4 linked regions of the Homo sapiens genome follow. The protein of the gene in region 4 interacts with the protein of the main gene of each other region in a biochemical or structural test. Each region holds a gene or a part of one and is shown on either strand. Other genes may lie near its edges. The genes, in order: SNTG2, CASR, UBE2L3 and HACE1.

Region 1 (7,034 bases), on a different chromosome or scaffold from region 4:
AAAATGATTACTGCTATCATCTAAAGAAAACAAGCAGAAAGGTCACCTTGTCCCAGAAACGCTCTTTCACTTTGCCTTTTAACGACTTGAACCTTTAGTGCTGATGGTTTCTAAGTGGCTAAATGCCACTATACATTTGAGTAAGTCCCTGAGATGAAGGATCCTATGTTTAGTAATTTTCTTTCCAGCATGTAATGTTCTATAATGGTTAATGAATTGGATGCTTCAAATATAAAGGTTACTTTAAGCATCAGGAATCAACCATAATTCCAATTTAGGGTGCCCAATTTGAGGGGAAAATCACAGCAGCCTGGGATAAATGAGAATAAACATTGGCATCAGTTTCTATGAAGATCTGGGTGTGACTTCATTCTGTGGACTAAGAGATCTCAGTGTGCATTAGTTACAGGGAAGCTTCGTGCTCTGTGATGGCATGCCAAGGAGCCTGGATACATTTTGACAACGTGAATGAAAGATAAATAACACAGAATAGTTTCACATTCAAGGTATATATGTATATTTAAATGAAGTAGCCATCTTTAGTTACTAAGTTCACACTCAGCATTCTCCGCGCTCAGCCAGGCGGGAGCCCTGGACTTTGGTGTGAAGTCAGAGCTCCTCTGGGATGCGCTGCCTCATTTATCTCCTGTCACTCTTCATTCCTGCAGCACACATCCTCCCTGAAGGATCATCCCGCTATTTAGGATAAGGAGGATTATAATGCATTCTTCCTCATCCCTTCACATGGTATACATTCAAATTTGTGAGTGATGTATTTGCTGTTGTCAGGAAGAGAAAAGCAATTCAGACACACAAGCTGTTTTATATTCTCCTTCGGACCATCAAGTTTGAGAGGAAGAACCATTAAAGTGCCTTAAAATATTACAAACATCCAAGTAACTGCACGACACATTATACTCATTTGTAAGCTAGGTGTTCTGTCTCCCGGAGCACAGGCTAGAAGTGTCATCACTTCTCAGGAACTTGAGCGCCACATCGGTGGAGTCCCTTCCTGGAAAGCGATGCAGCCCGTTCCTCACATTCAATGTAGACACAGACACAAAATCCTCTCCTCCCCTTCCCTTCCACTACAGCTCATATTTATCCACGGAGCGCATGACTCCGTGCGAACGATCATTTCCACACAGTAGCTCCGGTGAAAGATTCTCACCTTCTGAAGATTCCTCTTTTCCCCCGATAAACTGCTACATATTCCCCAATGCTATGTCTCAGACACCCGAGCAGGTGTAGGTGAGAAGAGTGTGAGTTGTTCACTTACCCCGGTTCTCTGAACTTCCATGAACGTGGCTCTTTGGAAGGACTTCTCCCACATGGCCAGCTCGCTGCCAAGCTCCACGTTGAAAACATGGCTCTTCCCATGGCCGGCCACGATGCTGAAGCAATAGGGCCTCTGGTCCTCAAAGTCAAAATCTTGAAGACCCAGATACAAGTTTGCTTGCAACCAGCAGTCCTCTGTGAGCCAGAACTGAAAAACAGAGCATGGATTGGAAACGTGCAGCGCTGGAAGGTCATTCCCATGCTGAGGGCCCTGGTGTGGGGAGAAGGCAGCGTTTGCGTGATCTGGGAAACGGTCTCCTGGGTGCAGACAAGGAGGCAAATTCAGAGCAATGAGCCCTCTCATGCACAGCTGGTGCGGAAGTGGTCCACAGACAAATATCTGTAAATAAATTTTGTCAAATGCTTAATTCTCTGTAAGTGCCTTTCCCTTAAAATACTGGTCACCACACACTTTCCTGTTTTACGGTGAAGAGAAAGATGAAGCTGGGTGTGGTGGCTCACGCCTGTAATCCCAGCACTTTGGGAGACTAAGGTGGGTGGATTGCTTGAGCCCAGGAGTCTGAGACCAGCCTGGGCAACATGGCAAGACCTTGTCTTCACAAAAATAAATGAATAAATAAAATACAACAAATTAGCCAGGTGTGGCAGCACACGCTTGTAGTTCTAGCTATTTGGGAGGCTGAGGTAGTAGAACGGCTTGAGCCCAGAAGCCCGAGGTTACAGAAAGCCAAGATCACACCACCAATGCACTCCAGCCTGGGTGACAGAGGGAAACCCTGTCTCAAGAAAAAAAAAAAAAAGATAAAGATGAAAGTCTTGAGACATTGATGCTTGTGTTTATCATAAAACCAGAAAACACTGAAAATACCACCACCACTCTAACTAAGCGTGCCCCCTGCGCCTCCGAGTCTCTATAGAATTACTGGCTCTTCCTCTCCTTGCGGGTTCATTGTCCTGAGATAAAGGACCGAGTGCCCAAAACGCCTCTGAAGCATGACAAGGCACCCGGCCACCCAGGAGCTCATTCTGCCAACCCAAAGGCCTGACAAAGGGAATGATGTAATGATGTTGTTCCATTTCTGGTTAATCGTTTAACCCAGAGATGTAAGTTACTTACAGCACGTCTATTAATCACTCGGCGATTCGGATGCTGCCAGCCTGTGCTGCATGGAGCAGCCTGGGGAGCTCCCCACTTCTTTCCCCCATCTGCAAGGTTGCACCCCACTTCGGGATTCATTTTATCAAGGGCAGAAGAGAAAGACTGGGGGTCCCAGTTGTCACAATTACTAGGTCAACAGCATGGAGGTGCATGGTGAACGCGCACTCAATACCTGGCTGGCACCTCTCTGTCTCTGTCTGTCTCTCTCTCTCTCTCTGTCTCCATTTCTATGTCTCTGTCTCTCTTTGTGTCTCTTTCTCTCTCTCCATTTCTGTCATTCTGTTTCTCTATTTTATGTCTGTTTCTCTGTCTCTCTCTATCCTTCTCTCTGTCTCTGTCTGTCTCTCTCTGGACCCACCTCAGTTCTCAGCTCACCCATTCATTTACTGGTCCACAGATCCACCCTGAAGAGCCCCCACCAGACACCTTCCTGGGACGCTGCACCCCAACATCAATTTTGCTGCACCAGTCTCTCCCCAGTGAAGGGAAACAAGGGGAGACACCTGGGCTGGGGTTTCCAAAGTCCTGAATGAGAATGTGGTGTTCACCCACAGCCCTGCATATGGCAGCAGAAAGGAAGGGGAGCTGCCCACCTGCTGGGTCTTCCCATCATGATTCTGAGATATCTCCATTCACTTGTGCCAACCAGCCAAGCTGGACAGTCCCCACTCACACTTACGCTCAAGGTCCAGTCCCAAAATCCACATGAACTCAGCAGTTGGCCAAATAGTTTTACTTGAAATATGCTGACACATGCACTCTAGGCACAGGTTTGAGGTAAAAGCTACGACTGGTGTGTCTCAGGTGGGCCTTCTGGACTCTCCGGGGGGATGCCCTGGCTCTCCTGGCCCCGCAGATGGCTCTGCAGGATGACCCTCTGATCATGGAGAGCATTGCACATTTATCCCTGTGCATCATCCAGACATCAAATGCCTTGTGGTGTGTGCACGTGAGAACATGTGTGTGTGTATGTGTGCACATGAGAATGTGTGTGCACACATGAACATGTGTATGTGTGGAAATGTATGTGAACATGAATGTGTGTGTACGTGAATGTGTGTAGTGTGCATACGTTGCTAACCCTAAATGAGCCTTGAGTACAGAAACTGCACTTTAATTCTGGGGCCCTCTGGATCGTCTCCTTCAGCTGGGATACCTGGAACCTATAGGGTTACACGTCACAAACCAAGAACAACATGTTCATCATTGACCTTATGGTGCAGAAAGTATCTCTTTATCCACTGAACTTAAATGTCAAAACTGATAAAGAAAAACTTTTGGAAGATATTTATGTGGGAACGCACATCCCCCATTGAATGGCTCATTATAGTTGGGCCTTGAACAACCCAGGGGTTAGGGGCGCCAACTCTCACGCAGTTGAAGATTCATGCATAACTTTTGACTCCCCTAAAACTTAACTACTAGTAGTCTATTGTTGATCAGAAGCTTTACTAATAACATGAACAGTCAATTAACACATATTCTGTATGTTATACGTATAATATACTACATTCTTAGAATAGAATAAGTGAATTCAGGCACAGTGGCTTACACCTGTAATCACAACTAATTGGGAGGCTGAGGCAGGGGCATCACTGGAGCCCAGGAATTTAAGACCAGCCTGGATGACACAGCAAGATCCTATCTCTAAATAAATAAATGAATTAAGAAAGTAAGCTAGAGAATAGAGAATGTTATTGAGAAAATCACAGGGAAGAGAAGATATACTTAGAGCACTGCACTGTATTTATTGACACCATAAGTTTACATCATCTGTTTATGAGATGAATGGTCTGAAATGGTGGCAACCACGCTGCAGACCTCAATCTGTGGTGCACAGCAAACAATTCAGCTTTTTGGCAATGCTGTGATATTCCCGCTTCTTGGGGCACTTGCAACATCCCTTGTGGCACTTCGTGTGGGTCCCGGGGTGTTATTCAAGGTTTACGTTACTGGACTCAACACGAAGGAGGGAAGGTACACAAGAACTCTGAGAGATCACTCGTTACCATGCTCTGCAATTTACTGGAGAGAGAAATTGCTTCCACAGGGATGATTAAGACATTTTACTCAGAAACCCATGTCACACTATGTGCTCCAGTTAACCATGGGCAGGAATGATTGAACGCTGCATCTTTACCTTTGTCTATATTCCTCTCCACTGCAGATGGTGCCAAATTGATTGATTTATATTTTACAGGAGTAAATGATGAAATAGACTAGTATCTACATATATTGTATGAATTCACGACATCTCTAACTTTTTCTTAATGTTTTGATATTTTTAAGCTACACAGTTTGTCTTAAGAGGTTTTTACAATTGTTAAATTGTTTTCAAAAAATTTTCCAACATACTTATAGAAAACAATTGGCATACAAATGAGCCCACGCAGTTCAAGCCCATATTGTTCAAAGGTCAATTGTGTTTCTTTCCTATCACTTGCTATATTTGGGCAGCTGTGTATTATAATAGAAGAACACCAGGTTTTGGAGTCAGATAAAATTTGAGGCCTTTCTTTGCCCAGTATTAGCTGTTTGATCTTGAGCAATTCACTCTCTCAGAGCCTCCACTTTTGAGCTGTGAAATGGAATCGTGATAAAAATGTTGTCATAACTTCACATGACAGAGTGGCCAGCATGCAGGGCTCACATCCCGGATTCACATGAGTTCACTACGTGCTTTCATAAAGACACACGTCCTAAGGCAATGCTGAGCCAGGCCGTACATGTCGATTTGATGTCTGCTTTGCAGCTACCTGGCTTCCTGGCAGGGTCAGCTCTGGCAATATCCAGAACAGCATTTCCAGCCACCCCCACGACTGAAGAAAGCCCACCCCCCACCTAGGACTGCAAGACATCATCTTATTATGTTCCCTTTCCTGAAAAAAACAAAAAGGGTTGTATTCTAAAATTACATATTTTTTCTATTTATATTTATTATGAAACAATTATAGCAACAATAAAGGGAATTTAAAAGATAAACTTATTACTATGTTTTGTCATCTGATTTTTAAAAATATGTCAATAATTATTAATATAACCTTAATAATAGGACAATAATTAATATTCTCTTTCATGCAATGTGAATTTGTACATATAACTGTATAAATTTATAGTAGAATTACTTAAAATATGTTGTAAGATTTTAAAATATTTCTCAATGGTCTTTTGATTATTCTTCAAATATCATTAATTTAAGGAATATCCTTAAACATTCTCATACATATAGCTCTTTGATTCCTCTGAACTCAGTGTTGTAATGGACTCTTCTTTAGATTCAATTCTGAGGAGTGAGACTGCTTGATCAAGCAAGGGATTGTTTTTCCACTGTTTAGCCTCACAAAGAATGTGTTGTAAGTTCTACAAAAGGAAAATTAATTATTCATATATAGCTCATTTCCCCAGATAGTTCCTGTAGCTCCTTTAAAAACAATCACTCAGACCTTGTGGATCGCAGTGTGTTGATACGACTGGAAACCCTGAGCACTGAAGTTCAAGGTCAGCGGCTTGCCGTCAACAGTCAGTCAGCGGCTGGCTAGGCCATCGGGTTTCCTCGTCTGGACCGAGCCTTCGGGTTTCGTCGTCTGGACCGAGCCTTCCGGTTACCTCGTCTGCACGGAGCCTTCGGGTTGCCTCGTCTGCACGGAGCCTTCCGGTTGCCTCGTCTGGACGGAGCCTTCCGGTTGCCTCGTCTGGACGGAGCCTTCCGGTTGCCTCGTCTGGACTGAGCCTTCCGGTTACTACGTCTGGACTGAGCCTTTGGGTTTCCTCGTCTGGACTGAGCCTTTGGGTTTCCTCGTCTGGACTGAGACTTGACCCGGCTTCTTCCCACCTCTGGGACCTGGAACTCCCTATCTTTAGAGCATTTGCTTTAGAAAATGTATTATTGTATGTTCTTTCTCTGCCATTTGATACCTGAATCTTTCTAGAAGTCTCTTGCTGGCTGTACAACCCAGGACTGTCTTTCTCAAGGAGCTGGGAGCTGTCCCTTCAAAATGTGATCACTGGCAAGATGGCGTCATCTCCTGTCCCTGTGGAAGGATGGAGCCCAGCCTTGGTGGGTGCTTGGCTCTAAGCTGTGCAACCACCTCCTGTCATGAAGATGGGGGAAGCTCTCTGTTTCTTTGCAGGAGGCCAATTAACAGACAATGATGGCCCTAATCTCCTTCCCATCCCAACTTGTAGAAACCCTCTCATCCTTTGTTTCAGTGGAGTTGAATCTCTGAATCTCTCTCTCTCTCCTATCATAATAGACTTGAATAAGGTCTTCTTGCCTTCTTCGCCTTTAACTCTGGTGCAGTTTTGTCCTGACATGGCTTTAGGAAAATCATTTAGGAATTCTTCCTCTCAGTGTTGATATTATCCAAACAGGACTACCCCGAAGATCCGTGGAGAACACGTTCTAGAACTCTTAACGGCCACTCGCGACAGGCTCCCGGAACACCACTGCTTCTAGCACGTGGAATAGAGCGGGATTCGGGATGAGCTTTGCAGCCACGTGAGTCTGGGCCCCATCCCTGTCTCTGCTTGGCTTCTGGAAAGTCCTCGTCCACTTCCCTGCTTCTGAGTTCTTAGC
Region 2 (7,034 bases), on a different chromosome or scaffold from region 4:
GACTAATTTTGAAGTCAAAGCTAACTAGAGAGCAGGTATATGTATTTTGAACTAATCTCTTGGCCAAGAAACTTTCCATTTTTAACTGTGTTACTGGCACATGGTAGGTACTCAGAAACTGATAAATAATTTTATTACATTACTATTTCTAGGAATAAAAGCACCCCATAGAAATGAGAGGATAGGGCCGGGTATGGTGGCTCATGCCTGTAATCCCAGCACTTTGGGAGGCTAAGACAGATGGATCACTTGAGGTCAGGAGTTTGAGACCAGCCTGGCCAACATGGTGAAATCCTGTCTCTATCAAAAATACAAAAATCAGCTGGGCATGGTGGTGCATGCCTGTAATCTCAGCTACTTGGGAGGCTGAGGCAGGAGAATTGCTTGAACCCAGGAGGTGGAGGTTGCAGTGAGCTGAGATCGCCCCACTGCACTATAGACTGGGTGACAGAGTGAGTGAGACTCAAAAAACAAACAAACAAACAAACAAACAAACACAAACAAAAAAAAAACCAGAAATGAAAGAATAGGAGAATGATAATATGAAAAAAAAAGGTCGAAGATTTTCAGAAATGAAAAGGTTCAAATAAAAAGATACAATGTGAGGGGTGATGAAAATTAAAGAAGGAGTGGATTAGAGTGAGGCTACCTGCTCCCCTCTCCAAAAGTTAAAAACTTTCCAAACTTCAAGTTGTAACTTTAAATTTTAACTTGACTGAGCATATTTATAGTAAGAAGTTCACTTCTTCAGAAAGCTAAATAAGCTATGTGTGTTCATTTTTGCTGGTGGACAGGAGTTCCATGAAATCTGTATAAGCTGGAGAGGCAGCTGGATCGTGAGAAGAGCAGAGAAAAGAGGTGATCCATGGATCAGCCTTACCATCATCGCCTGGGAGCTCGCAGGAACTATATACATTTGGCCCCCACTCCAGACCCGCTTAATCAGATTTTCTAGGGGATAGACATTGGTAATCTATGCATTAAGAATATTCCCCACCTTAAAGTTTGAGAGCCCTGGGATGGAAGATTTGGGAAAGTTTCTTGGCCAAGAGATTAGTTCAAAATACATATACCTGCTCTCTAGTTAGCTTTGACTTCAAAATTAGTCTTTTTCAAATGTGTAAGATTGTTATTAATTCATAAAGAGAATCTTGGAGATTCTGCAAGAAAGGTAAAACTGTGGAAAGGGATTAACATTGATTATATCTGCCAAATACAGTCACAGTAAATGGAATAAAGTAGATCTGTGTCAGTTCACTGATGTTTTGTTGCTATTTAAGTTACATAAAACCTTTAGTTGTTTAGAGCTTTGAAGATTTTGGAAGTGTAGACCTGTATGAACCCATTTAAGCCACATAACAGCCCTATATGTTAGATACTCTTATCGTCCCCTTTGTACAGATGAAAAAAGTAGAGCCTGGAGAGGTTCCAAAGTTACAGGGCAGAGTTACATGACAGTTACATGACAGAGCCAGAATTTGAATCCAGGTGGTAAGACTCAAAATCATGCTTTTAGCTGCTAGCCTATGCTGCTTCCTATCCACCACACTGTATTTAACCATTCCCTTATTATTGGATTCATAGGCTTTTTCTTGTGTTTCAGTTTCAAATTCTCACTGTGAAGAACATCATTGGGCATAAGTCTTTAACCATATTTCTGATAATTTCTTAATGATACAATCCCCAAAATGAAATTCTTTGGTCAAAGGCTGTGAACAGTTTTAAGGCAATTGTTTTCCAGGTAATTTGTTATGACAGTTTCCATTGTGCCCCACTCCACTAGCATTATCTTCAACATCTTAATGTTCCTGATAAGGAAATTGGTATATCATTGTAAAAATGTTTCCCTTATTGAAGAAAAGTTAAAATATTTGTATGTTTCACCACCCATGTGATTGTCTTCATTTGAAAACCATTACAACCTTTGGCTACTTTTTTGAAACCATGGTCTTAATGTTCTTCCTATTAAATTCTATGAGTTCTTTATATTCACAAATTTGAACCTTTTGGCTTATTTGTTGCAAATTTTTTTGAGTTTATTTTCATTTTAATTTAATTATAACCTTTTATATACAAGTATTTTAAACGTTGGCCAGGCATGGTGGCTTATGCCTGTAATCCCAGCACTTTGGGAGGCTGAGGTGGGTGGATCACCTGAGGTCAGGAGTTCATGACCAGCCTGGGCAACATGGTAAAACTCCGTCTCTACTAAAAACACAAAAATTAGCCAGGCATGGTGGTGGGCGCCTGTAATCCCAGCTACTTGGGAGGCTGAGGCAGGAGAATTGCTTGAACCCGGAAGGCAGAAGTTGCAGTGAGCCAAGATCGCACCGTTGCACTCCAGCCTGGGTGGCAGAGTGAGGCTCCATCTCAAAAAAACAAAATGAAACAAAAAACAAAAAAACCCAAGTATTTTAAATGTTTATGTAATGAAATCTATCAATATTTTCCTTCATGATTCTCTGCTACTTTTATACTTAGAAAGAACTTCCTCATTCTTACAAAATATCCACTGCTCCCCTCTCCAAAACATAAAAACATTCCAAACTTCAAGTTGCAACTTTAAGTTTTAACTTGACTGAGTGTATTTACAGTAAGAAACTCATTTCTTCAGAAAGCTAAATAAGCTATGTGTGTTCATTTTTGCTGGTGGACATCCTTTGAGTTCTGTGAAATCTGTATAAGGTGGAGAGGCAGCTGAATCTTGAGAAGAGCAGAGAGCTAGGAGTAAGTAGAATCAGCAACGTTAACCAGATCTTTTACTTATAGTTGCACTTTCTTTGGCAAGCCAACCTTTCAGTACCCTGGTTTCCTAATTTGTAAAATGGAGATAATACCTTCCCTGCTCAGCCGCCTTATTTATCTCCTGACATGTTCTGGGAATCAAATGAATTAATATTAAGAGGGTGCTTTGTCAATTGCTGACTGTTATACCAGTCTATATACTGAGATTTGTTCATTCACTAAGTCACTCATTCATTTGTTCATTCATTCATTCATTCATTGATTCATTCAGCTCCTCCAGTGTACCAGGCACTATGATGGATTCTGGAGTTTCAGTGTTGAATAAGACACGCTGTCTATGCTTGATGAGCTTTAACAACGTGTATTAGCTCATATAAGTCTTTTAACAACCAAAGAGGTAAGTAGTGTTAATTAACTGCAGTTTACAGATAAGGAAAATGGGGCATAGAGAGGTTGGACAACCTGCCCAAGGTCACGAAGCTAGTGAGCTGTCAAACTGAGATACAAGCTCGGGTAGTCTAATTCCTGGCCCTAGGCTATTACCACTGCAGTGTACTGCCTCTCAAAAGATGAGGATGAATGGAAATTGGTTGATAATTGCATGGAGTATAAACTTTACTTGGACTATTTTCATTTTTAAGAGTGTGAAAAGAGAAGATCACCTAGCCTCCTCACTACCTTTCCCCGAATCTCTTAATCGACAAGCACTTAGCACATAAGGGCTCTAACTGGCAGGGGCTTGGGGCACTGGGATGAGTAGACCCAGATCCTGACCCAAAGGAGTGCATGATTGGATGGACTGGAAGCCTGAAGCTGTGGTAGAGAGCCTCAGCCTGAGTGTCACTCCCACCACCATCAGCTGTTTAAGATCAGCTTGCACCCTCCACCCCACTTCTCTTCCTACCCAGTCTCTCTCACAAGGGCTACCAGACTGGAGATCTGGGCACCACAGCTGGCGTCTCTGAGTACACAGTGCCAACTCAACATCTGACATGCAGTTGGGACCCAACTGGTGAACAAAACTAAACTAAAAGCTTATGTCAAATTATAGAATATTTAGAAAAACTATATGAAAGATATGATAATTCTTTCAACCATCAACTTCTGTTAAGAGGAGAAAAGCAAAACTTTGTTCCTAAGGACAAACAATTATTGAGGGGTACAACTGCAATTTCTTTGAGCCTGCTTCTTTCTACCTACATGAAAAACAAAAGATAAACAAAAAATATGCTTAATAGGAACTCTACCAACAGAAAATATGGGAGGAAGAAGTCAAATTACTCAATTTTTCTATTTGTTAGTAATTTTACTTGCATGTGTGTGACAGACTTGTTGAAGGAAGAATGGCTAAAATTAGTTTCCTCTCTGCAGGTATCATATTACCTTTGCCCCCATCATCACTGATAAGCATTCACTGAGGGTGGAGGAAAACAGGTTTCCACCCTGGTTCCCAGGGAAAAAAAATCAATCATAGATGAAAAACACATTAAAACAAATTAATTCAGGTTACTTAACCCAAGAAATCTGCATGCTTCCTGCTTTTTCAATGTGAGGAAAGACCCTGGGGATTAACTGAGCCAAAGGATATCAGCTAGTTAAGCACCCACCATACGCCACACATTGTGTTTAGCACATTTAACTCATTTAAACTTCACAACCGCCCTGTGAAGGAGACATTACCTTAGCTTCACAGATCTCAAAGGAAGGTCCACCACTAAAAACTGAGGCTCAGCTAGGTTAATGTCATGCTGAAGGTCAGAGATAGAAAGCCCACCTTCCACCAAACTAGACTGTCCACGGCAGAGGCTGATCTTGTTTTCCTCATTTCATATTTGACCATCTCACTCATTTGGCTCTGCCTAATTATAATGTTCATTTCTGTGGCTTTGAGTAATAATACAGTTGTTTGAGCAACTGAATCCAAAAGCACACCCTTAATCAGCACTTCCTAGTATCCACCTTTGGTGGAAACAGTAATAAAGCTCTCGGCAGCTTTTCAACAAACACTATCACACATGTCTGTATTGTTTCCTGCCTTATGAATGGATACTGTGGTTACCAAGACTGCATTGCATGATGAAATAGGAACTACCTGAATCCTCTAATTCTCATGGACTTTAATAAAGTCCATGTGGACACCTCAGTTAGTGCTTATTGTATATGAGAAGACATGAGAAAAAGGAGAAAAAAGTGAATCAGGCTGGTGTCAGGCAAGAGTTGAACCAACAGTACCAGGCATGGAGTGAGGGTACATCTGTCACTTCAAGGCAATGACAAATAGGTGAAGTCTAATGTCCACCCACTTTGAACTGAAAGCCTCCCAGAAATAGAGAGAGAGAAAAAGAGAGAGAGAGAAGATGGATATTATATTTGGTATGGATTAACTGATCCTATTTTATGTTCAGACACAGAAATGGTCAAGGGCTCTTCTGAATCAGAGATAGCATTTTTTTTGGTACCGATCATGAAGTTCTCTGTATACAAGCACTTCCCAGATTCCTGATCCCCAGTCCTGGTTGATACTCACTTCTTCTTTTCTATCCCAAGATCACTTGAATGACAGAGTCAAAGGATAACAGACCAGAATCTCAGGCTTCACCTCTTCAAATCCTCTCCCTCACTGACCACATCTAATGAGTAACTTAGTTCTGTGGTGGAGTCTACTTTGACGATATCTCAAGCATTTAGCTAGTTTTCTCCATGGCTGCTGCCATGACCGCCATGGTTCAGGCCATCATTACCATTATCTAAATGGTTATAATGTCTCTAAATATTTACTTTGTTCCAAATGAGCCCCCTTCAACTCAGCATCCACATGCAGCCAGAGTGATTGCAAAAATGCTCACGAGTCACTCCTCTATGTAAAACCCTCCAGCAGCTTCCTTTGCCCTAGAATAAATAATGAATAGCCAACAATTCCTGAGTACATAATCTGTGCATATCTTATCTGAATCTTTGCAGCAATCCTATGAGGAAAGTATTACCTTTATTACCATTAATTACTGTGGCTAAATTACTTAACTGAGGTCCCACAGCTAGAAAGTGGCAGAACCACGACTCAAATCTTTGTTTCTGTGACCCCATCATGCATACTTTAGCCACTTTGCTAGCCTCCCTACCTCTTGGCTCCTTATGCTTCAGCTCCTTGAACCACTTGCAGGTCCTAGAACTTGACATGATGTTTCATGCCTCTGGTTTAGTTGTTGTTAATTGCTTGTTTTTGCACATGAATCTCTCTCCCATTATACCTTCTTCTTTTGTCTACCTGGTGTCACTCCTCATCTTTCAAGATTCAACTCAAGCGTTACCTCCTCCAAGAACCTTTCCCTGACCCTTCCTCCTTTGGTAGAATTGACCACTCCCTTCCCTTATACATGAACGTACCCTGATTATGCTTTAATTGTAATGAACACAATACTACCTGCACATGGATGAGCATGACTCCCTCTCAGACTTCTATGAACTCCTTAAATGTTGGGACTCTGTCCTAGTAATCAGTTTTAATTATACTGTCTAGCACAGCTCTGAGCACATACAAGGTTTACTGTAAACACTGTCGAATGAATAAAAATATTTGTTTGAATGTTAAATATGTTGCTTCAGTGCAATTGGTGATTTTTTTTCTTTACTAAAGAGCTATATATGAATCTTTGAAAAGGATCATGCAGCTTTAGAATAATTGAAAAATTCTGGCATCCTCCCAATTAGAGCAGTGGCTAGGGATGGAAGGAAGATATTACAGCCCACCTGCCACACCTATTTTCACCTAAAGAATCTATTTAGTGATAACATTGAACAGTCAGTGTATAAACCACATTTGGTATCAGGGTTATATATATATTTACCTTATTAATGGGAATATGGATGATTCACATTTGAACTGCAATGCACACATTTTATTGTACACAATAAAATAAGTGGATAAGCATAAAGTTAATTGAAACATTTAATTATAAAGCAAGAATACAGCAATGGCAAACCATGACCAACTGAAGACAATGCAACTGATACTGTGATAACAAAGCATTCTTTCCCAAAGTGCCAAAAATGCCAAGTTGGCACATGTGCTCATGTAGTACAGCAAATGTCACATGGCAGTTAGTCTTCTTAATGACTAGCAGCCAAACACCATTCCTAGTGGATACATTCTGGTCCTACGTAAACAACAAATATATCCTCAACCTTCCTCTCCATCTTTGAATCTTGGCTCAAGGGAGATCTCCTTGAGAAAGGCTTCCCTGGTCTCACAGTTCAGTCTGTATACACCCTCAAAGAACTTCGTTTCTTTC
Region 3 (4,855 bases), on a different chromosome or scaffold from region 4:
ACAGAGTCTCGCTCTGTTGCCCAAGCTAGAGTGCAGTGGCACGATCTCGGCTCACTGCAACTGCCGTCTCCCGGGTTCAAGCGATTCTCCTGCCTCAGCCTCCTGAGTAGCTGGGACTCTAGGCATGGGCCACCATGCCTGGCTAATTTTTGTATTTTTAGTAGAGACGGGGTTTCACCATGTTGCCCAGGCTGGTCTTGAGCTCCTGACCTCAGGTGATCTGCCTGGCTAGCATTTGCATTTTAATCCATTTCTTGTAATGCTGAATGAACAATATGAGCCCTTAATAAAGGAATTGACCAGGTGCAGTGGCTTCATGCCTGTCATCCTAGCACTTTTGGGAGGATGAGGCGGTAGGATCACTCAAGCCCAGGAGTTTGAGACCAGCCTGGGCAACATAGTGAGACCCCATCTCTACAAAAAACTAGGCCAGGAGCAGTGGCTAACACCCGTAATCCCAACTACTCTCAAGGCCAAGGTGGGAGGATTGTTTGAGCCCAGGAGATAAGACTGCAGTGAGCTGTGATTGCACCACTGTACTCTAGCCTAGGTTAAAAAAAAAAATTAGCTGGACGTGATGGCATGTGCTTGTAGTCTCAGCTACTCAGGAAGCTGAGGCAGGAGGATCATTTACACCCAGGAGTTTGAGGGTACCGTGCAGTAAAGTATGATTGAGCCACTGCACTCCAGTCTGAGTGACAGCAAGACTGTCTAAAAAAAATAAGAAGGAATTTGTGGCATCAGCAGTTCGGAGAAGAGGGGCACTGTTTTACAGTGGGAAGGAACATTCTGAGGGTGCTGGTCCTGACAGGGTCAGGGGGCAACTGTGGCAAAGTATGTGAGGAGGTGTGGGTAGCAGCTGCTTCTGATTCCCCACTATCCTTCCACCCTGGGGCACGTCTGGGCTACGGCACCTAGGGGGAGTACTGTGGCACCCATCAGAGCCATCAGCGTGACATCTGCCTGTGGTCTTGACAATGTGATGCGATGGCGGTTGTCAGCTTCCCATTGGCTGGCCCCAGTGACCCTTTCTAGAGGGTTCAGAAACTCCTAAGGGTCTTCCAGAGTTGGGTCATTGCGCATTGACAAGTGCAGCGCCATCACATACCCTTCTCTCTAGTGCCCACTCAGTCACCTTAACCGAAACTTCCCTGAGCCGAGCATGGTGCTGGGTGCTGGGCTGATGCAGGGAAGTTCTACCCGGTCCTGCCCTGAAGAAAGTGACCCTGTGTGCATGCATGAGAGTGAGCAGTCAGTTCAATACTAGGCCTCCTATCTCCAGAGTACACAAGAGGACTGGATTAGCCGGGCATGGTGGTGCACGACTGTAGTCCTGGCTACTTGGGGGACTGAGGCTGGAGGATTGCTTGAGGTCAACCCAGGAGGTTGAGGCTGCAGTGAGCCAAGATGGTGCCACTGCACTGCAGCCTAGGTGACAGAGTGAGACCCTGTCCCTCCTCCCCAACCCCCCGCCAAGAAAAAAGGGCTGGGAGTGACTGAGGGCTAAGACCTCCCCAGGTGTTAGGTCAGGAAGGCTTCCTGGAGGCGGAAGCACATCACTGTGAACAATTATCCACTGTAGTGTTAGCTATTTGTTGTCCATCAGTGTCTTCTAATCACAGAGGAAAGATGAGTTTTCTGGCAGTCAGAATTTTGGATAAATAGGAGGCAGCTTTGGCTTAAAAGCACATTAGCTGTAAATCAGTTGTAAAGCCAGAGTTTTGTTCCCGGATTAGCTGCCTCTTGCCTGTGCCATTTCTGAGACTGTGTTAACCCCCCATGCCTTGTCCTTCTCTTGGCAGTAATCCAGTCCCTCATAGCACTGGTGAATGACCCCCAGCCTGAGCACCCGCTTCGGGCTGACCTAGCTGAAGAATACTCTAAGGACCGTAAAAAATTCTGTAAGAATGCTGAAGAGTTTACAAAGAAATATGGGGAAAAGCGACCTGTGGACTAAAATCTGCCACGATTGGTTCCAGCAAGTGTGAGCAGAGACCCCGTGCAGTGCATTCAGACACCCCGCAAAGCAGGACTCTGTGGAAATTGACACGTGCCACCGCCTGGCGTTCGCTTGTGGCAGTTACTAACTTTCTACAGTTTTCTTAATCAAAAGTGGTCTAGGTAACCTGTAAAGAAAGGATTAAAAATTTAAGATGTTCTAGTTCTGCTCTCTTTGTTTTAAAAATCACTGCTTCAATCTACTTCAAAAGAATGGTGTTTCTTTTCTTGTCCAATTTTATCCAAAATCTTCAAGTTACATTTAACCCATAAGGTTTAAAAAAAAGGAAAAAAAACGGTTGTGGTTCCCTTTCTTCCCTACCCTTGCCACTCCCACTTTCTGGCACCGAGTTTATTTTTCACTTACTTACTTCCCCAGACCCCGGGCTCGCCTCCACAAAGGAGAAGAGACTGCCCTGGCGGTCCTGGTGGCTTTTCTTAGCATGTGTGGCACTGTTGCCCAGTGTGGGAGTTGGTTTAAATTCTCCTGACTCCAGTTTATAACATCCTTTTAAAAAATTTAAAAACAAACAGCCACACCCCTCCTCCAGTCCTTCTCCTCAGTTCTTGTGTGAAACTCCAGCTGATGTTACCACAGTAACATCAGTTAATTGGGCAAGCCCTGATGTCAGTGTGTGTAACTGACCTCTGGCCTGGCCTGCACAGAGAAGCCCTATAATCACAGGTCTGTGGTGGCCCCGAAATGGGGGGCCTGCTAGTCAGGAGGATGCTGTGCACACTGTGTGTGATGAATCTCGCCAGAAAGGCTCCTGAGGTCCCAGGTTGGCACTTCTCCCTGCAGCCATTGTAGAAGATCTGCTGGTCCTTGCAGGCAAAGCTACAGCCAGAATGTCCGTTTGAAACTCCTAGCTCATCTGTCACCGAGCTTCATCCGAATGTGCCACGGAGCTTGCTCTCCACTTCCTCCGTGCAGTGGCCCTGCCACAGCCCTCCCTCGGCACACTTTGACCCTTTGTAGGATTGGAATTAGCAGGACTCGGCTATTTAAAGCACCAGTCTGGGGTCGCCTGGGCCCCTGCTGACCCCCTCCTCCAGAGCAGCCAGCCCAGCCCGGGAACAAGACGGACTTCCTCTCCCTTCGGACTCACAGCCTTTGCAGAGTCAAGCTCCACTTGAAGCTCACTCAGTAATATCCTTTCAATGTGTTTTATATTGTTTTGACTGCCTTTTTTTGTAGAAATAAAAATTGACCTTAGAATTTATCGTCAGATAAACTTGTAAAGATTTGAATATTAATGTCTTTTCAAGGCAAATGGGATTGTCCCCGCACTAGTAGAGAATCCATGTCGCTCTGACACCCCAAGGAAGCCGACGATCCAAATGCCGTGTGTCACCAACCCCGCTTCTGCCACTGGCGGCTTCCCTTCTTGGCTCTTGGGGGGGACTAGATCCTGTGGAGAAGATGACTTAAACTTTGCTTTTTGTTTTAATTTTAATTCTATAACTTGAGATCTTTCCGGGGCCTACAGGCGTGTAAGACAGCTTGGTCTGGTCTGTGCAGAAGTGGGGAGTGATGGGCAGGTTCGGCAGCCTAACATTGTTCAGGCGCATGGCCCCTGCGGTGTGTACACGAACTCGGCTTCTTTTGTCCTAGGTACGCCAAGGGCAGGTTTCTGGAGACTCCCTTGTGCCCGGGATGGCAAGGGCACCGGGCTGGCGTTTCCACATCTGTCTTCATTAGCAGAAAAGTGATGATGGATTTTATTTCACTCACACTCCAGTTTGTAATAAAATGCCAAATTCTGTCAGCTATCCAAACAAGCCACCATTTGTTCTTGTTGCTTCTCTGGATCCAGAAATGTTGCCATTCTTGGAAACTGTCCCATTGCTTCGTATTTCTGCCAACGTAGCTCTGCCTGCCTGTCAACCCCTCACTGCACTCTGCTCATCACGGGAGGATACCTGTGTGCCGGCAGCCCCTCAGGGACTCTCAGCCCTGGCACTGGCACCCCAGGGTTGGCCCCGTCAGCAGAGGCTTGGCTTTCGAGCCAGTGGGTGTCTCTCCTTTGGGCCTGGGCGGCTTGCTCCTGCCAGCCATGCCTTCAGGGTAGGCTCTGAGCAAGCTGGCGAACAGCCCTGGCTGCTCCAAAACCAAAAAGCTGGGTCCTCTGGAGGAGGGGCGAGCTGTGGAGCAGCCACCCACTGCTGCCCCAAGCTCACTCAGGAATTCACACCCGCCTGGTTTCTTGAAGTGTGCTGGGTCCTTCCCTCTGCTCCCTACTCCCCACCACGGCAGAGAATAGGCTTTCTAAGATGCTGCGATCCCGTTCTGCTGCCCGTAATAAAAATGCTCTCAGACACTGGTTAGTCGTGTGGGTTTCTTCCTTCCTGGGAGCGGGCAGTGCCAGGGGCCTATGCTCTTGGAGATGGGAGGGCTGGCTGGGGCCCAGGTCCTGGGGCTTCTGATCTCTCTCCCCATTCCCAGCCTCTCCAAAAGAGGTACATAGAAGTGTTCCTGCCTCCCTAGAGGGAAGGAGATGAGGTATAATCAGCAAGAAAGCCGGAGACTTCAGACAGTCGGGGCCTGCAGAGGGCGCTCTTGGGCGTCTCGTTGAGGGGACAGGGACTAAAGTGTGGGTGCATCACTTACATGCGTGGGTCATCCTGGAGCCTCCTGGGAGTGTTAACAATCCATGTTTAGAAGAGGCAAACCTGCGGTCCCAAGAGGTCACAGAATTGATAAGGGTGTGCCTGTGGGTGGAGCTGGGCCATGTCCATGAATGGTGCCAGCCAGAAACACTCTGAGTCCCCAGTACAGCCCACTGCCAGGGTGCTGCGGCAGTGGTGCTAACTCAGCAAGGGCTCAGCCAGACCCAGGACTTTTTTGGCTAGGCCT
Region 4 (7,034 bases):
TTAAGCACCTATAAGCCAGGTACTTTTTGAAGCACTTTACAATGCATTACCACATACAATCCTCACAACACTATGAGAAAAAGGAACTTTTGTCCCCATTTTACCAAAGAGAAAAATACATTAAAAGCATTTATACTAATGCTCTAATACTCAATACCTAGAATGCTCAATAAATAGATACTGTTCTTATTATCATTCACAGCAATGTTAAAATTATTGTCAATAACTATTTAAAAGAAAACTTACTGCCCATTATAAGATATTAAACTATATCATTTATCTATGAAATGTGAACCAAGAAATAAAAACAAATGGAACCTTTTCAAGTAATTCAAGTGGAACATTAAAAGGTACAAACTGCTACCTTCAAAAGCTCAGATCAAACACACACACACACATACAAACACCTACACAGCCAAATGGTACATTTTTGTATGTAAACTTTCTAGAGTACCTGCATTTCCATAAATAATTCACAAAACAGGACTGATTATAGAGGCTCCTCTTAATAGCATTTGTACAGCAATACAAAATGTTTCTCCCTTTAACTACTGGCCACCTGAAAACCACCAACAGAAGAAGAAGTCAATCCCTTAGCAGAGGTAGTTGTTCTTTTTAACTTTCTAGAGGAGGACAATCTCCAAGTTACAGAAAACTTCTAAGTACAGTAGAGTACAAAGTATTTTTTTTTCCTCTAATGTGAGAGCAACTTGCCAATATAATGTCCAGTCCCCTATAAACACTTAGGCATTTATTTCCTACAAACAAGGGAATTTTCCTCTATAACTAGATAACAACCATCAAAATCAGAAATTAACTCTGATAACACTACTACATCAGATCCCATTTCAAGTCTTGCCAATTTTCTAATAATGTCCTCTTATTGCAAAATGATTCATGAACTGCCTTTAATTGTCCTGTCCTGTCTCCTTCACTCTGGTACATTTCTTCAATGTTTTCTTAATTTTCATAACCTTGATAGTTTTAAAGACTGCAGGTCTTTAAAACTGACTGCAGGTCAGTTAATTTTGTAGAATGTCCCTCAACTGTATTTAGTCTGATGATTCCTCCTGATTAGATTTAAGGTGTGTATCCTTGGCAAGAATACCACAGAAGTGATGCCATGATGTCCTCAGAGCATCCTATCAGCTGGCACACTGCTATGTCTGCTTTGATCACTGCTAAGCTTCTCTACTGTAAGGCACCCTTTTTCTCTTTGCAATTATTCTGCTGGGAGATAATCTGAGACTGTGTAATCATCCTACCCTTCATCAGACTTTCCATTTATTCATTAACTTTTTTCAGTACAGACTCATAGATTCCTGTTTATGTTGCCATCATTATTTATTTTGATGCTCAAATTCTTCCAAATTTGGTAGTGGGAGTCCATTCAAGCTGTCTTCCGAGTCATGTTAACATAACCCCATCAGTCTTTGAACACTTCCTTACTTTCTTACACAATAAGATGTTGCAGGCTTATTTTATACTTTCCCTGATCTAGCCCTGGAATTAGCCATTTCTCCAAGGAGCCCTGGTTCATTGAGAATGGCACTGAGAGACCAAGAGCTGGGTGCCAGGTTTGCTACATGTATCTATGTAAATTTAAAACTAAATTCAAACTGGTAACTCCAATTCAACACAAGGTTCCTTCTAATTTCCTCCATTTTGTAACTCCTTTCTCCAACAACGAGAAGTTAGACTCTCATACTTGCTTATTTGATCAACCTGCAACCCCACTCCCTTGGTATGTAACCAATCTCCAATCACTGACATGGCCCCTGCATCCCACTGAGGCTCCATCAGACAGCACTGATCAGCTGCAACCACCGCCAACATGGACATCCTCCTTATGCCACTCTAACCCACATGACTCACACTGGGACCCTCTTCTACACAGACACACTTCTTAATCACATCCAAACTCCAAAACCCCACACTAGGCCACCACTACACATGTAGACACCCTCCTCACCCTAGTCAGGCAACAAACACCTCCCTCTCTGGGTCAACAAAGTGGATACCTAATACAGATGTTTTTTGACTAAATTGTCCAGGAAGGGAAAAAGGAATAGAAAGTAAAAAGCAGAGACAGTATTAGGTTGGTGCAAAAGTAATTGCGGTTTTTGCTATTTTAATTTGACAATTTTAATTTGGCAATTAAAAGTAACTGCCAAAAACCGCAATTACTTTTGCACCAACCTATATTAAAAACAGCAGACTATCTCTCAAAAACTAAAATCTTCTTTCACCTATTATCTCATTTGCCCCAGAACAGTATCATACAGTGTAGGTTAAGAAATTGAACTTGTCCGGGTGTGGTGGCTCATGCCCATAATCCCAACACTTTGGGAGGCTAAGGCAGGTGGATCACTTGAGCTCAGGAGTTCAAGGCCAGTCTGCGCAGCATGGCAAAATCCCGTCTCTACAAAAAACACAAAAATTAGCCAGGTGTGGTGGTATGCACCTGTAGTCCCAGCTACTTGAAAGACTGAGCTGGGAGGATCGCTTCAGCCCAGGAGGCAGACGTTGCAGTGAGCTCAGATCAACTATACTCCAGCCTGAGTGACAGGTAAAACCCTGTGTCAAAAAAAATAAATAAATAAAATAAAGAAAGAAATTGAACTTGAGAACCAGACAGACTTTTAAATTCTGGTTCTCCCATTTAGTAGCAGAATGACTTAAACAAGTTACTTAACCACTTCAGCTTACAAAAAAAAGAGTAGCCATCTTATACAATGGTTAAGAAAATAAAATCATTCATGGAAGCAAATACATAGTACCTGACCTAAAATCAGTAAATGTAAGTCATTATTACTGCCTTCTCTTTCACATTATCATTATTAAACAGATGTCAAAAGATCCCTCTATATAGTTATGTATAATTTTATAAAAATTAGTTCATAGCTTAACTTCTGAAAGGACAAGTGTCCCTAAAGACATTAAAAACCACTTATCCTATTTATTATCTTACAACTACTAACCAAACCATTGCCTACAGTCTGTCCTACATATCTGGCAAATTATTTTCTAAAACTTTGCCAGAATTATGCCATTCTCCTAAAGCAAGGGTATCAGTGGCTCCTAACAGCCTAGCAAACAAAGAAAATTCTTCAATCTGGAAATCAAGGCTCATCATTGGATGACCTCAATCTACCTTTCCATAACTCTATCTTGCTCCTATCAACACAAAATTTCTGCTGCAATACTGCAGTTTTACATACTTTTCGGTCTACATGCTCCAGCCCACATGGTGGCTAGAAAGTTCTCCCTCTTTGTTTACTCCCATCAAAATGTTGCATATTTTTTCAAGCTTTCTCAAGGTAACTTAAAATCTGCCTCCTCTGAAATTTCCCCTGACTACAGATGCCAGAGCCAGCTCTTCCTCCCTTAAACTCCTAAAGATCCAGGTTATGTTGTAGTTACTATTTTATACATATGTTTATTATCTCCCCAGCCAGACTGAATTAGAATCCTCTTAGAGAAGGGAAGTAAGTTTTCTATCTCCAAAACAACTACCATTTATTGAGCATATATCACAGTCATTCCTGACAATTTATTCTGGACAATAGTTCTATGAGGCTGCTGTCATTATCTCCATTTTGTAGATGAAGAAACCAAGGGCTCAAGGATATTAGGAAACGTGCCCAAAGTTCACATAGCTGGTAAGGAGCAAAACAAGCTTTCCTCCAGCTAGCTTCATGTAACATGAGATGTATGGAATGAACAGGTACACATCTGGTAGGGGAAAGGTGGTCAGGTCAAATAAGTTAGGAGGATTAACAAAGCTAAATCACTATTTTTACTGAAGGGCTTCTCAAAGCCTTTTAACATGCTGCCAATGTGATTTATAAATTTCCAAAGGGCATATGTTATGTAATTTCCCAAATGTATTTGGGGGCTAAAATCCTTTTCAAAAGGACAATCAGCCTTATAGAACTAAAGAGTTTCATTAAGCTCCTTTCAGGAAATGTGGCAATGTGTTCTGTTGTTTTTGTACAGACCTCTGTACATAGTAGGCACTCAGTACATATTTCTTGAAGAAAACTTACTCCTCATATTAAAGTAACATGCAATCATTCCTCTTACAACAGAATGTCTGAAGTGTAATAATTATTCCACTAAACAGTATTAGAATTTTAGAAATTAATTTCATTAGATAGAATAAAAAGATGAAGAAAAATTTCTACCTGTGCTTTTATGATATGCATGAATCTTGACATCAACTCAGGACATTCAAGGAGAAAGTGAAAGTGGTCAAATATAATTTTGGGATTTCTAAAAGAAAAATATTTTGTTTAAATGGACAGGAAGAATGAGTAGCATTAAGTGAAATGCAAATTCAGATACACTGACACTGAAACAGAAGAAAAACACATAATAATCCATATCTATTAAAGTTTCATTTGTTATTGAGCATATTTTGAATAGTACGAGAAATAGTATTTTTTCTGTTTAGATGAAACTGTAAGTAAAGAGAGGAAAGGCTAGCAGGGTACTCCACAAACCCAGAAAGCTTACCTATTAACAAAGCATTTTAAAACTTCATCATGTTTGCAGACAAATTCAATGAAACGAGGTGAAGTCATTCTGTGGGGGGAAAACATCAATCAGAATACACAGGCAAAAGTTTGTGATATAATATAGCGAACTTGATAAATATATACTGAACTGGACTGGCTTCTAAACCAAAAAAAAAAGAATTTGGTTTTGAATCTTCTTTGTAAGTTTAGGAAACTGAAGTATGCCTAGCCAATTTGTAAAATGATTCTAACTTCTCATCAGCAGACGATATCAACAAGTGACTTTTTAAAAATCTTGAAATTTGGTGCATTTCTGCTCTACACATTTCAAATACATAATTAAGAGATCCTATACAAGGTGACATTCACCATTCTACAAAGTAATAATATATACTGCTTAATATTTAAATATTCCCTACTAGATCTAGATTAGTATGAGTATCTTAAAACAAGGAGAAAACTTTAAATCAACAAATTATTATTTGTTGTTTTTGAAATTACAAAAGTATCACTGCTTTTCATCATCTATCAGAGAAAAAAAAAATAATAAGCCAAAACTTTCTTACCCCGGAGGCATCTGACAAGAACAGCACATGTAAAAAGCTTGAATGACAGCACTTAGCCGGTTAGCTGTCATAGAAATAACATCCTGACAATCTGCACTGGCTTCCTGTCTCCCTGCAAGAGCATCTGGTTTAGATTCCCTTGTGCCAGTGGACAGATTTTCATAGCTCCCAGGTCCTGGAGGTTCAAATGGAGGAATGGAAGCAGCATCTTGATCTTGGCCTTTTTGTTTCAGTAAAATAGAAGTGATCTCTGTTGAGTCTCTTTTGTTTTTCATCAATTCTGTGGCTATTAAAACTAGCCATTCATCTAACGAGTGCCAAAGCAATTCCAGAGGCTGAGAGAAACAAAAGTGTTTTTTAAACATCATTCTTAAACTACAGGATTAAAAAAAAAAAAACAAAACACAACTAGACAAATATTATAGAAGAGAAAATTTACTCTAGTCATTTCTATCTTCCCAAGTTAACGTGATAGTAATGCCTAAAGGTAAGTAATAAAATTATACAAATGCTACATAAATGACAATTTCTTCATTTATGGCAATAATTTAATTTGTATGTATGTATTCCTTGTAATAAAAAGGAAAAACTAAATCTAACAAAAAATTCACAATCTTTCTTCTTTTAATTTTCAAATGTTTAGTTTTAAAAGCACACATTACTACTATATATAATCACCCTTAACATTTACTGTATTAATATGATCAATGTCAACCACTTTCAATTAAACAAATAAGATTTTTTCAGTTAAAAAATGAGAACCCCTAAGTATAATCACTCAACATTTTCTGTATTAATATGATCAATGTCAACAACTTTCAATTAAACAAATGTCTTTTTTCAATTAAAAAATGAGAATCCCTAAAGAACCTAATGAACAGCTTTTTTACTGTGCTCCTTTCATTACATATAATTCCTAGAATTTGGATAATTTTTGACAAGAAATTACAAAATGTGGCATATTTATGTATATACATATACTTACAGACACAATCCATTTCTAATAATTAGTGTTTTTTTAAAACAAGAGATACAATTACCAAACTTCTATTAAAATACTGACTAGCAGGCCGGAGATGGTGGCTCACGCCTGTAATCCCAGCACTTTGGGAGGCCGAGGTGGGTAGATCACTTGAGGTCAGGAATTCGAGATCAGCCTGGCCAACATGGTGAATTGAAATCCCATCTCTACTAAAAATACAAAAAATTAGCCAGACATGGTGGCACACACCTATAATTCCAGCTACTCGGGAGGCTGAGGCAGGACGATCACTTGAACCCAGGAGGCAGAGGTTGCAGTGAGCTAAGATCACACCACTGCACTCCAGCCTGGGTGACAGGGCGAGACTCCATCTCAAAAAAAAAAAAAAAAATACTGAGTAGCAAATTCTTAATTCCAAGTAAAGATTAACACCTTTCTATTAAAAAAAAAAAAGATGAGGAGAGAATAAACTATTTCCTATTATTATTCTAGCTGGGTACACAGGCATGCACTTGTAGTCCCAGTTACTGAGGAGGTTGAAGGGGGAGGATTGCTTGAGTCTCGGAAGTCAAGGCTACAGTGAGCTGTGATCATGTCACTATACTCCAGCCTGGGTGAAAGAGTGAGATACTGTCTCCAAAAAAAAAAAAAAAACAAACAAACAAACAAAAAAAAAAACCTGCTAGGATATTTTTAATCCCAAATAAAGATTAATAGTTTATAAGTGGTACAGTGGTTAAACAATCCCTTCATCCTACACTATTTTAAATATTCTTATTGAGAATGATTAGCTATCCTTCTGCAAATAAATATAAAAGTTTATCTCACTTTTTGAATCTGACATGATTACAGAATGCTACAAACTACACCATGTGCTACAGAAAGACTCACCTTTAAAATATTTCAAGGAAAGAAATAATCTTTCTTTTAAAGACCGCCATGGAAGGAGATTATACAACCATATTT

The links.
Region 1: the proteins of HACE1 (region 4) and SNTG2 form a complex in vitro, tested with the Homo sapiens proteins (one study listed by BioGRID).
Region 2: the proteins of HACE1 (region 4) and CASR form a complex in vitro, tested with the Homo sapiens proteins (one study listed by BioGRID).
Region 3: the proteins of HACE1 (region 4) and UBE2L3 form a complex in vitro, tested with the Homo sapiens proteins (8 studies listed by BioGRID, with this or other methods).

Annotation. Positions count from the first base shown.
Region 1 is NC_000002.12:1,261,817-1,268,850, reverse strand, and holds part of SNTG2 (gamma-2-syntrophin), read right to left. Parts: intron 6,957-7,034; exon of another isoform or gene 6,830-6,956; intron 6,516-6,829; exon of another isoform or gene 6,433-6,515; intron 1,487-6,432; coding exon 1,280-1,486; intron 780-1,279; coding exon of another isoform or gene 756-779; exon of another isoform or gene 1-755. UniProt on the Homo sapiens protein: Adapter protein that binds to and probably organizes the subcellular localization of a variety of proteins. May link various receptors to the actin cytoskeleton and the dystrophin glycoprotein complex.
Region 2 is NC_000003.12:122,186,668-122,193,701, reverse strand, and holds part of CASR (extracellular calcium-sensing receptor isoform 2 precursor), read right to left. Parts: intron 1-7,034. UniProt on the Homo sapiens protein: G-protein-coupled receptor that senses changes in the extracellular concentration of calcium ions and plays a key role in maintaining calcium homeostasis.
Region 3 is NC_000022.11:21,619,713-21,624,567, forward strand, and holds the end of UBE2L3 (ubiquitin-conjugating enzyme E2 L3), read left to right. Parts: intron 1-1,802; coding exon 1,803-1,957; 3' UTR 1,958-4,322; downstream 4,323-4,855. UniProt on the Homo sapiens protein: Ubiquitin-conjugating enzyme E2 that specifically acts with HECT-type and RBR family E3 ubiquitin-protein ligases.
Region 4 is NC_000006.12:104,779,899-104,786,932, forward strand, and holds part of HACE1 (E3 ubiquitin-protein ligase HACE1), read right to left. Parts: intron 5,422-7,034; coding exon 5,087-5,421; intron 4,588-5,086; coding exon 4,519-4,587; intron 4,276-4,518; coding exon 4,188-4,275; intron 560-4,187; exon of another isoform or gene 455-559; intron 1-454. UniProt on the Homo sapiens protein: E3 ubiquitin-protein ligase involved in Golgi membrane fusion and regulation of small GTPases. Acts as a regulator of Golgi membrane dynamics during the cell cycle: recruited to Golgi membrane by Rab proteins and regulates postmitotic Golgi membrane fusion.